Regions from separate parts of the Homo sapiens genome. Here region 1 is linked to region 2. Evidence: fine-mapped expression QTL. A gene starts in region 2. The other region holds a variant in brackets. All regions are shown on one strand. Distances are from middle to middle. Region 1 overlaps FADS2 (fatty acid desaturase 2). Region 2 holds the start of RAB3IL1 (RAB3A interacting protein like 1).

Evidence for each region. PIP is the estimated chance that this variant, and not a neighbour inherited with it, causes the effect.
Region 1: its variant is the best candidate, but not a certain one, in a credible set for the expression of RAB3IL1 in whole blood (INTERVAL, PIP 0.68).

Annotation. Positions count from the first base shown.
Region 1 is chr11:61,854,033-61,859,396 of GRCh38, forward strand. FADS2 (fatty acid desaturase 2) reads left to right here. Exons shown (of 12, transcript NM_004265.4): 6 at 2,979-3,039; 7 at 3,422-3,498. Among named protein-coding and RNA genes, the nearest start is that of MIR6746, 22 kb to the right of the region's middle. RefSeq lists an enhancer at 2,961-3,462. The variant G/A (reference allele first, on the strand shown) is at 2,289.
Region 2 is chr11:61,915,077-61,920,440 of GRCh38, forward strand. RAB3IL1 (RAB3A interacting protein like 1) reads right to left here and starts at 2,490. Exons shown (of 10, transcript NM_013401.4): 1 at 2,281-2,490. The coding sequence starts at 2,291.

The DNA.
Region 1 (5,364 bases), 61 kb before region 2:
GCCCCTGGCCTGCGTCTCTGCCTGTCAACCGCAGCCTGGGAAGGCACTGTTGCTGATCAGGGGGAGGTCCATGTGTGCCACCCACACCCTTGGCCGCAGCCCAGCCAGGTGAAAGTCATGTGTCTTCCTTGCCTCTTGGGCTTTCTCTGTGTGTGTGACGGGGACTCCTCTGGAGGAGGAGATGTGTGGGGTCCTCCACTCCCCACACTTGGGGCTCTGAGCCCCCAGTTGGGAAGAAGCCTGACTCTTGTTGAGTGAGTCTGTGGACCGGGCACTGTGATGGGCAGTGTGCGTGCACAACGTCACTTAATCCTTGCTTAACCCGTGAGGCGGGAGCTGTCATCGACCCATTTCATGGATGGAACAGCTAAGGCCAAGAGACATGAAGTGACTTGTTCAAGGTAACAGCAAGGAAAAGGCAACACCACTGTCCGAACCCAAACCATCTGGCTGCAAACCACAGCTTCGGAGTCCTGGGGGCCCTTGTGAAATATGTTTGTTGGGTAGCCCCAGCTTTCTGATCAATTAAACAGCCAGGCACTCACCCCCCTAGCTTGCTACATTCTAAAATACCTCTCCCTCCCTTCCCTGGTCCCATGACTTAAACGGCAAAGCTCTGGCAAAGAACTGAGCGTGGGAAAGATGAGAGCAGAGAGTTAGCCACAGGGCAGGGCTTCGTATCCCAAACCCACAGTTGTACTTTCTGGTTTGGGAGGGGAGTATTGGCCATCCCCCAGCAGAGCCGCTGCAGCTGAGGCCATCGAGATGGGCACAGATGTGTAGTGGTATGTCACCATACGCATGTACATACACGTGCGTGACTGTGATGAGCATTTTGCTCACCGTCCCACAGAGGCCCACTCTGAGGCCTGCTGCTGCCTGGCAAGCAGGACCCCCTGGCTCCCGAGGGTCATTCTGGGGCATTGAAGGGACGCACACTAAAGCCAGCAGTGCTTACCAGCAGAGGCAGCCCCTGTAACCTGTGTTGTCCACCCACAGGCCACCATCACCCATGAGAACAGGGTGCCTACTGTGCACATGCAGCTCCAAACAGACTCCCCAGGTGCCTCCCAGGCCCCCACAACAGCGTGGCCAGCCCTCAGTCCCTCCATAGGATGCCCTGGCCCCTGCTGACCTGCCTGGGTTGCCCTCTGTGCTCACTTCCGAGTACAGCCGGCCCAGCCCGAGAGGGATGGGATGCTCTGTGGGACAGAGATGCGGTGGGGAGGAGCTCTTGAGCAGAGCTGGAGACACTGCATGCCAAGGCTGGGGCTATGAGCCTGCTCCCTGGCCTCTGGGAGAAGCTTAGAGCAGGACTCAGGGGCCTGTTCTGTGGGCCACTGCAGGCCCCGAGACTGGCCACCTCGAGAGCAACGTCTGCAGTGCTGGCTCCTCCAGCAACTCCGTCCACTGGAGACTCATGAAAGGCTCCTGTGAGGCCTCCCTGGCTCGGACCTCTCCATGGCCGGCCTCAGCCCTGGCCTTAATAATAGTCTTCCTGCAAGTGGCCGTCCTTTCTGGGAATGAGTGAGATCCTTGCCAAGGCTCAGGAGGCCACACAGAACAAAGGGACTGTTTCTGGGGGTTCTTCAGCTGGTTGTGCCGTGACCATGGCCATTGGCGCCAAGATGCAAGCCTTGGGGACAGGGTGGACCTGGTTCCCACCCACAGCCTCTTCCCTCAGGAATCCATGCTCTCCCTGTGATTTGGACAATCATTTTACTCACCTGGATGAGAGGGGCACTGGCCTAGGCATCATCCAAGGTCCCTTCCCTCTGTAACTCACTTTGACCTCCTGACTGCAATAAGTATGACTGGACACTATAGGAGGAGGCATCTCTGGCCTTCGGATCCAGGGGTATAGGGAGGGTGACGGGCAGTGTCCTGGGGTCAGCACTTGGCATTATGCCCATGTTCTCATTGGCTCCTCTTACCAACCACTGATTCAAATGCCAGACAAGGCTCAGCAAGGCTAAGCGACTCACATAGTCTCAGCACTGGTGAGAGGCAGAGTCGGCTCAAGCGCATCTGCTGGCTGCAAGCCCAGCCTCCCCACACTGCAAGGGAGAGGAGCAGGTGTCACTCAGTGAGCGGCATCTTTTGGTCTCAGTCCTGGAAGTGCAGGGTGGGCTGGTCCCTAGGGGCTGGACCATGGAATTAAGGGCTCCAGGGATCCCCTGGGGCCGTGGTTCCTATGCCTGGCATTGGACAATGACGATGCCCAGGACCCAGCCCAGCCCTCCTCCATTAGAGCCTCTGGGCATCAGGCTGCCCAAGGTGCAGGCTCT[G/A]ATGGGGAAGAAACCGGTGCCGTCATGGGGACCTCAGGTAGCCAGATGTGGCCTGAGGAGTCTGTGCTGTGGCCTCCTCTGTCCTCAAGGTTAGGCTCCAGCTGGGGAGGAGTGATTCACTCTTGTAAATTACAGGGAGGCTCCAGGGAGGCAGATGCTCCCAGCCTGATGACTGGCAGCAATTCTGGGGCCCTTACCTAGGTTCTCCCTGCCACTGCGGGCTCCGGGAGCTCTCCATGGTGACCTAGGAACTCCCCTGGGTGCTTATGCTCCGCCGAGAGTTGCTCTGTTGCACATTCATTCAACAAACATTTGTTTAGTGCCTGTCACATGGGCTCAGAGTCAGCTTTTTGGGTTCTGATCCCAGTCAGGGCCACTTCCTGTGGCCTTGGGCCATGGCTTAACGCTGAGCCTCAGCCTCAGAAGTGCCGGCCTTGTAGAGGATCGATGCCATCGGGCCAGTGCTCGGCTAGGGCTGAGGAAGCGTTGGCCGCTGCTGGCTGTAGCATGGGGAGCCCAGAGGGCTGGAGGGGCCCCAGGCTTGGTGGGCCCAGGGTGCAGATTGACAGGAAAGGGACAGTGGTGTGCCCTGAGCAGATAGAAGGGATGGTGGCTGCAGGATGGGTTGGGGAACATGGGAGGCTGGGAGCTGAGGCTACTGGGTGCTCATGATCTCTCCTCTCTCCTCAGTACGGCAAGAAGAAGCTGAAATACCTGCCCTACAATCACCAGCACGAATACTTCTTCCTGAGTGAGTGCTCGGCGCCCCGAAATCACTCTGGGACCCTCCCCTCCCCCCAGAGTGGCGTGTCTCTCCCTCCTACCTGACATCTTTTTCAGATCCAGAAAGTGACACTAAACTTGTTAGAAGCGGGGGCCACAGCAGCCTTGCTGTGCAGACCCCTCAGCCTGTGTTACAGGCCTGATGGGGACACAGAGGCTCAGAGAGTCCCAGGGGTGACACACGTCCTCAAGGGCTCCCAGCCTTCTCTGCAGGCCCCGGGGTCCCTGGCTGCTTCTGCCCACGTCTGCAGGGCTGGCCCCTGCACTCAGTGCTGGGCCTGGGTTCCCCTGACCTTCCGGCACAGGCAGGGTGGAATGGATGCCTCTAAGCGCCTGTCTCTCTCCTGCAGTTGGGCCGCCGCTGCTCATCCCCATGTATTTCCAGTACCAGATCATCATGACCATGATCGTCCATAAGAACTGGGTGGTGAGTTGGGGACACAGCTGGCTTGGCATGGGGAGGAGGGTGACTGGGACAGGGGGACCCGGGGGTCCTACGCTGCCTCCTCGTGTGCCCCAGTGGAGCCTGTGGGGCCCCAGGCATCTCCTCCCTGGGGTAGCTGCCTCTCAGGAAAGGACTCCCTCTGGGGCCACCAGGACCTAGTCCTAAAGATCTCTACTCTCCCTCAGACATAGGGAGTCCACTGGGGCAGCCCCTGCTTTTGCAGAGCCCCCGAGAAAGTTCTCAAAGGCAGCAGGATGAGAGGCAAGTGTGGCCATCTCCCTTCCCCGCTCCCTGTGGGCCCTGAGTCCCATGAACTGGGTTGCCCCACACCCTGGTTTGAAGTTGGAGCAGCTGGGCGTTGGCTGAGATGACAGGTGTGGTCGTTTGCGAAGACCGTATGACAAAGCACCACGAACTGAGTGGCATAAGCAGCAGCGATGTGTTTTCTCCCGGTTCTGGAGACCGGAAGTCCAAAACTGAGGTGTTAGCAGGGTGGATTCCTTAGGGCTCTGGAAGGCTCTGTTCTGGGCCTCTCATCGGCTGGTTGATGGCTTTCGTCCTCCCTCTCGGTACATCATCTCTCTGCATATTTGTATCTGTATCTGTGTCCAAATATCCCTCTTTAAAAAAATTATTTTGTTTATTTGTTTATTTATTGAGACAGAGTCACATAGGCTGGAGTGCAGTGGTGTGATCTCGACTCAACTGCAACCTCTACCTCCTGGGTGCAAGCAATTCTTGTGACTCAGCCTCCCAAGTACCTGGGATTACAGGCACCGGCCACCATGCCCAGCTAATTTTTGTATTTTTAGTAGAGATGGGGTTTTTCCATGTTGGCGAGGCTGGTCTCGAACTCCTGGCCTCAAGTGATCTGCCCGCCTCAGCCTCACAAAGTGCTGAGATTACAGGCATGAGCCACCACGCCTGGCCTATTTTTTAATTTTCTTTTTTTCTTCACCAAAAGTGGATTCTTGAAAATTTTTCCTTTTTTTTAAAATAGGGACATTGGTCATATTGCATTAGGGCCCATTGTAATTACGTCATCTTTTTTTTTTGAGATGGTGTTTCGCTCTGTCGCCCAGGCTGGAGTGCAGTGGTGCGATCTCGGCTCACTGCAACCTCCGCCTCCTGGGTTCAAGCGATTCTCCTGCCTCAACCTCCTGAGTAGCTGGGAGTACAGGCGCCGGCCACCATGCCTGGCTAATTTTTGTATTTTTAGTAGTGATGGGGTTTCACCATGTTGGCCAGGCTGGTCTCGAACTCTTGACTCGTGATCCACCCGCCTTGGCCTCCCAAAGTGCTGGGATTACAGGCGTGAGCCACTGCACCCGGCAGATAAATTGTTTATCTGAAAATTATCAAAGACTAAATTGTCACTTTCTGAAATGCTTGCTTAAAATCCAGTCTTTCTCAGCAGTCTATTTGTCCCTCATGCTCCAACCAATAGCCATGGGGAAGTTTTTCCTCTCTTAACCAAATGTGGACTTGTTTATTGATTACTGTTTTTTGTTTGTTTGTTTGTTTTTGAGGTGGAGTTTCGCTCTTGTTGCCCAGGCTGGAGTACAATGGCGTGATCTCGGCTCACCGAAACCTCTGCCTCCTGGGTTCGAGTAATTCTCCTGCCTCAGCCTCCGAAGTAGCTGGGATTACAGGCATGCGCCACCATGCCCAGCTAATTTTGTATTTTTAGCAGAGACAGGGTTTCACCATGTTGGTCAGGCTGGTCTCAAACTCCCAACCTGAGGTGATCTGCCCACCTCAGCCTCCCAAAGTGCTGGGATTACAGGCGTGAGCCACCGCGCCCGGCCTGTTGATTACTGTTTTATCGCTTGCTAACTGAAGTTGTCC
Region 2 (5,364 bases):
TCAAGGTAACCCCCAAGCTCTGCCTCACCCCTTCCGCCAGCTTCTCACTGCCCCTCATCCTTTCCATCTGCATTTATGAAGCACCCATTATGATATGAGCTCAGCACCCAGCTAGGCCCCTGGGGGTGCAGGGGTGCATGCAGGAAGTGAGCCATACTGAGGATTCTGTGGGGGTCAGCCTGGCAGCTGGCTCATCCAGAGTGTTGCTGGGAATATGGCAGGGGGGCTGGATGGTGGGGAGGGGTCCCTGCCCAGGATATAAGGCTCTCTGACTCTCCTTGAAGCAACCATCCATCTACTGGTGGCTCTCAGCTGTGTCTGGCCTTGGCCTGGGTGCCTCCAGGGAAGGACATTCTCTGACCTGCGATCACTCCCACCCCAGAAACCATTTATTTTACCTAGAGGCCCAGAGAAGGAAGTCCACACTCTCAAGGTCACACAGCAACTAACTCAGGGGCTGTGTTGCCTGAGTCCACCCAGCCGGCACAAGACACAGGCTTCCGGCAGACGAGGCTGCTCCCCAAACACAATTCACCCCGGGCAGGACTGCCCTAACCTCTCCAGGTACCACAAACCCACCTCAAGCACTTTCTCCTAAGCCAGCCTCCTTCCTCCAAGCACAATGCCAACAAATACACTAGTGGCCTTCAACTCTCTCCCTTTAAGAGTCTCAAGCCCAGGCCGGGTGCAGTGGCTCACACCTGTAATCCCAGCACTTTGGGAGGCTGAGGCGGGCGGATCACAAGGTCAGGAGATCGAGACCATCCTTGCTAACATGGTGAAACCCTGTCTCTACTAAAAACACAAAAAAATTAGCTGGGCGTGGTGGCGGGCGCCTGTAGTCCCAGCTACTCGGGAAGCTAAGGCAGGAGACTGGTGTGAACCTGGGAGGTGGAGCTTGCACTGAGCCGCGCCACTGCACTCCAGCCTGGGCGACAGAGTGACACTCTGTCTCAAAAAAAAAAAAAAAAGAGTCTCAAGTCTTAGGGCAGGGCGTGGTGGTAAAAGCCTGTAATCCTAGCACTTTGGGAGGCTGAGGCTGGTGGATCACCTGAGGTCAGGAGTTCGAGACCAGCCTGATCAATATTGTGAAACCCCGTCTCTACTAAAAATACAAAAATTAGCCGGGTGTGGTGGTGTGTGCCTGTAGTCGCAGCTACTCAGGAGGCTGAGTCAGGCGAATTGCTTGTACTCAGGCAGCGGAGGTTGCAGTGAGCTGAGATCTCGCCACTGCACTCCAGCCTGGGTGACAGAGCAAGACTCCGTCTCAAAAAAAAAAAAAGTCCCAAGCCTCTCCACACCTCACCCCTAACAGGAGCCCACTCTCTCCACACCCCCTGCTGGGGATGAAAGGCCATCCCTCCCCTAGCATCGCAGCTCAACCTTTGCTAGGTGCCATGGAGTGAAGTGGATCCTGCCTGCCTTTCCGGGGGGCTTCCCTCACTCCCCAGCTGTAGCTGGGCAGTAGCCCTCTCCTGGGACCACTCATCTGGCCCAGGGGGCACAGGAGTACAACCTGTCCCCCATTCTGGCCACATTTCCTCCACGACCTGGTCTTTCCCGGCCACGGGGAAGAGGAAGTGTTTGCCCAACTCCACAAAAACACCACAACCTTTCTGCACATACAGGGCAGGGGTCCCACATCAGATGGGCCAGGAACTGCAACTGCCCCTGAGAACCAGTGGCCTGAACAGACACAGCCACTGGGGCCACTAATCCAGGACCCAGAGTCTCTGCTACCCCACTCCAGGCTGCGGGGCCGGGGCGGGGGGGGTTCCCACTCCACACCTCTGAGAGCCTCCGTACTTCCAGAGCCCCACAAGGAGGTTCTGCCCTCAACTTGGGAGCCACCCTGGCAAAGACCCAGCCCCTCTTTCCCAGCTACACTGCTTTCCAAGAGTTCATCCAGCGAAGGGGTTGAGGGACAGGTTGGGAGGGTGGGCTGGGGGTCCTTCCTCTAGGTGCATGCCCCAGAGTCGTGCACACTCTTCCCCACACCCCAACTCTTCTCACTTGCGCTCCTGATGAGCTAAGAGGAGTTGACGCTGTCACCCCGGGACGGTCGGCTGCCCACCCTTCGCACCCTGCACCCCGAGAGACACCCCCGACCCCTCCCCCGGAGTCTCCTGGCTGCAAGTCGGCTCGCCTGCAGGCAGGGCGGGGGCGCACAGCACCTCCGGGTGGCGGCGCAGACCCGGCGGGGACCCCCGAAATCCTCCCGTCCCGGGAGGCGACCGCGGCCCAGACCCAGCGCGGGACCGCGAGCGCGCGCGGACCTACCCGCTCCACATCCCGGCGCCTCGGGGCGCCCAGGCGTCCGTTCCCAGCGCCGCCGCGTCCTCCCAGCGCCGCGTCCCCGCCCGCCGCCGACTCCGCCAGGGGCCGAGCCGCCCCACCGCCTGTCAGCCCTGCCCGCGGCCGGTCAGTAGGTCTCAGACGCCTGGGCTCGCGGCCCCCAGCCCAGCCCCGACCCTGCCCTGGGCGGGTCACGTGGCGGAGGGGGGAGCGGCCCGAGGACACGTGCCCGGCCCCGCCCCTCCGCCGGCCCGGCGCTGGGATCCGGCGCGCGCTCCCAAGGCCTGGCCCCACCCGGCCCGCCGCGCCGGGACAGGGAGACCACGGCGCTCGGAGGGAACCCGGCCCCCAACATCCCGCGGGCCGCGCCGCGCTCAGACTCCCCAGCTGACTCCTCCTCTCCAGTCGCCCTCCGCACCACCCACTTTGGGCCACCCCTGCTCAAGAACCTACAATGGCTCCCGAGCTCTCAGCTCTTCGATTCTCACACAGATTGTCACTTAAGGCCAGCAGACACCCTCCCCCCTCCTCACCCGGCCCTCCTTCCCTAGGCTGTCTGCTTAGTGCCTGTCCCTGTGCAACATCCTGCCTGCTGGGAAGGGGAGGGGACAAACCCGAAACAAGTTTTCTGAGTCCTACTCTCTGAGTTTTATCCCGAAGGAGTTTCCACTTCTGGTCCAACTCTCCTCACTCAGCCTCCTGCCACTTAACACGCTCTGCCCATCCCTGCCTTTACTCACCATCTGCCCTCTGGATAGTATTCCCCACCCCACCCCCACCGACACACACACATACACACACCTGTCTGGTCCCACATCCTCCGTGAAACCTTCCCTGAATCCCAGACGACTGGTCTACCTGTCCCTCAGTTCCTCTGTCCCACCCATTCTGAGTCCTGATCATTCGTCTCAACTTCAGCCTGGGACTGGACCAGTAAGAGCAGAACCCGTCTTCTCTCCCGCCAGGTACCATGGCTCCCACCTTCCCTGTCTAGGGGAGGACTGGGAGCGTGGTGGGAGGTACTTCCCCTTCTAGGTGCTACCAGAGGTCCCAGTGCTACCCCTCCAGGCCCACTGACTCAGGCCGCAGGCTCAAGTTAGTCAGATCTTCGTTTGAGGATACATTTTATTCATTCATTCTACTCATTCATACATTCAGCCACTCCATCTGAGCATAGACTATGGGGCATGCAAGGGGCTGGGGACCCAGCAGGAAACTGTACAGACATAGGTTCTGCCCTCCTGGGGCTCCACGTTGGTGGAGGATGGAGGATGGGGGACGTATTCTCTAAGACCTCCACGTCCAGGGCACAAATAGACAATGCTCTTTCCCCGCTGGGCACAGCGCACAGCAAGGTATGGAATCTGGAGAGTGGAGGCGAGGCTGGATTCTATGCCTTGCTTGCTCCCTTGGCCAGCACTTTGTGCAGTGAACAACCTAGGCAGTTCTCCATAGCATCCCTTCCAACTTTCTAGAATCATTCAGCCCAGGCGTCCCATAGCCATCACTCAGCAGGGCAGTTGTTTCCATGGCCACGGCTTCCAGAGGGCAGGGATTCTCTCTTTCTTGGAGCTATGTTCCCCTACCCCACCCCCAGCCCAGCTCAGGGTCTGGCCCACCCAAAGCAGATGTCCACATGTGTTTGCTGGCTTGAATCCCTCATCAGTTGGTCTTGAGCAACTGTTGTCTTCCTGGCCCTTATTTTGTTCACTATTTAGAGAAGGAGGAGAAAATGACACAAAAGGAACCCAGCACAGGGCCCTTGCCCTCCAAGTCTTCACAAGCCCCGGCAGGAGATAAGTCATGGCAACCCAGACCAGTGGGAGATAAAGGGTGGAGGAGGCGTCAGCTCAGGGCTATGTCCCTGGAGGAAGAGTCCTCAGCCTGGGAGGTCTGGTGGACCGGGGAGGCCCTTGAGCGAGGTCTTGAAGGACAAGTCTGTGGTCACCACTCTGGAAGCATCCACACTCAATTTCTAACCAAAAATAGCCTGTCATCCATGCTTCCTGCTACCATGGACTCCTAGGGCTCACTGCCTCCCCCAGTAGGGAGGACCCTCCTGCTCAGCTGAACTTGCTCCTCAGTTGAAAAGGATGGGCTCGGAGAAGTTAAGGAACCTGCCTGATATCACACCAGCCAGGGGCAGTGGGGCTGAGTCCTCTTACACCCGTTTTCCAAAAAGACCACCCAGAAACTAGAGGCTCACTGGCAGCTGCAGCTGTGTGCAGCCAGGCAGCAAGAGGTTCCTGAGCACATGCTAGGTGTCTGGCCAGTGGCAGGGAAGGGATAAATAAAAGTTGTGTCCTCTGCCTACAAGCCACTGCCCTCCTCAGCCTCCCTCCCTCTATCTCCCTCTGCCTGCTCCATCCCAAGCCTGGCAGCCTTGACCACAGACCCTTGGCTGAAGGCAGCTGAGGAGCAGGAGACAGTCAGCCTGGACAACCCAGGCCCTGATTCTGGACTTACAGGTGTGTCCTCAGCTCACTGTGTGACCCAGGATGAGTGTCTTGCCCTCTCTGAGCTTCAGTCTCCACCTCTGTACAGCCACCAAATTGGACAAGACAATCAGAGCCATTGCCTAGGACTCTCTGAGCCCAGCTTCTCACACTGGCTGCCCTGAAGCTTGCCAAGACTCCCCCTCCCCTCCATGCCCCAGGTCCTGAGCTCACCTGTCTGTGCCCCAGGGCTCTTCTCTCAAGTTCCCCTCAAGTACAGGGCACAGGCCTGATGGGGCGTAGCGGACAGTCCCTGCACTCATGGCCAGGAACACGGGACATGTCCCTCGGGCGGGGCACCCAGCGTGCTCCTCAGAAGAGTCCATGCTTGCAAGGCCAGACTGAGGGTCCCTCTGGAGGGTGCCGGGAAGGGAGGTAGCAGGAGCCTTCTTCCCCCCACCAGGCTGAGCCTCACACTAACCTTTGCTATCTCCCCAGAGCAGCAGCCTGGGAGGGAGGCACCACCTCCCAGGACAGCCGCTATCTCCTTCAACCCCGTAATTATTAACTCCTGTGGCTCCTCAGGCAGCAGAAGACACTGGGCCCTCCTTCCTGGGCTCTGGGCCAGGGGAGG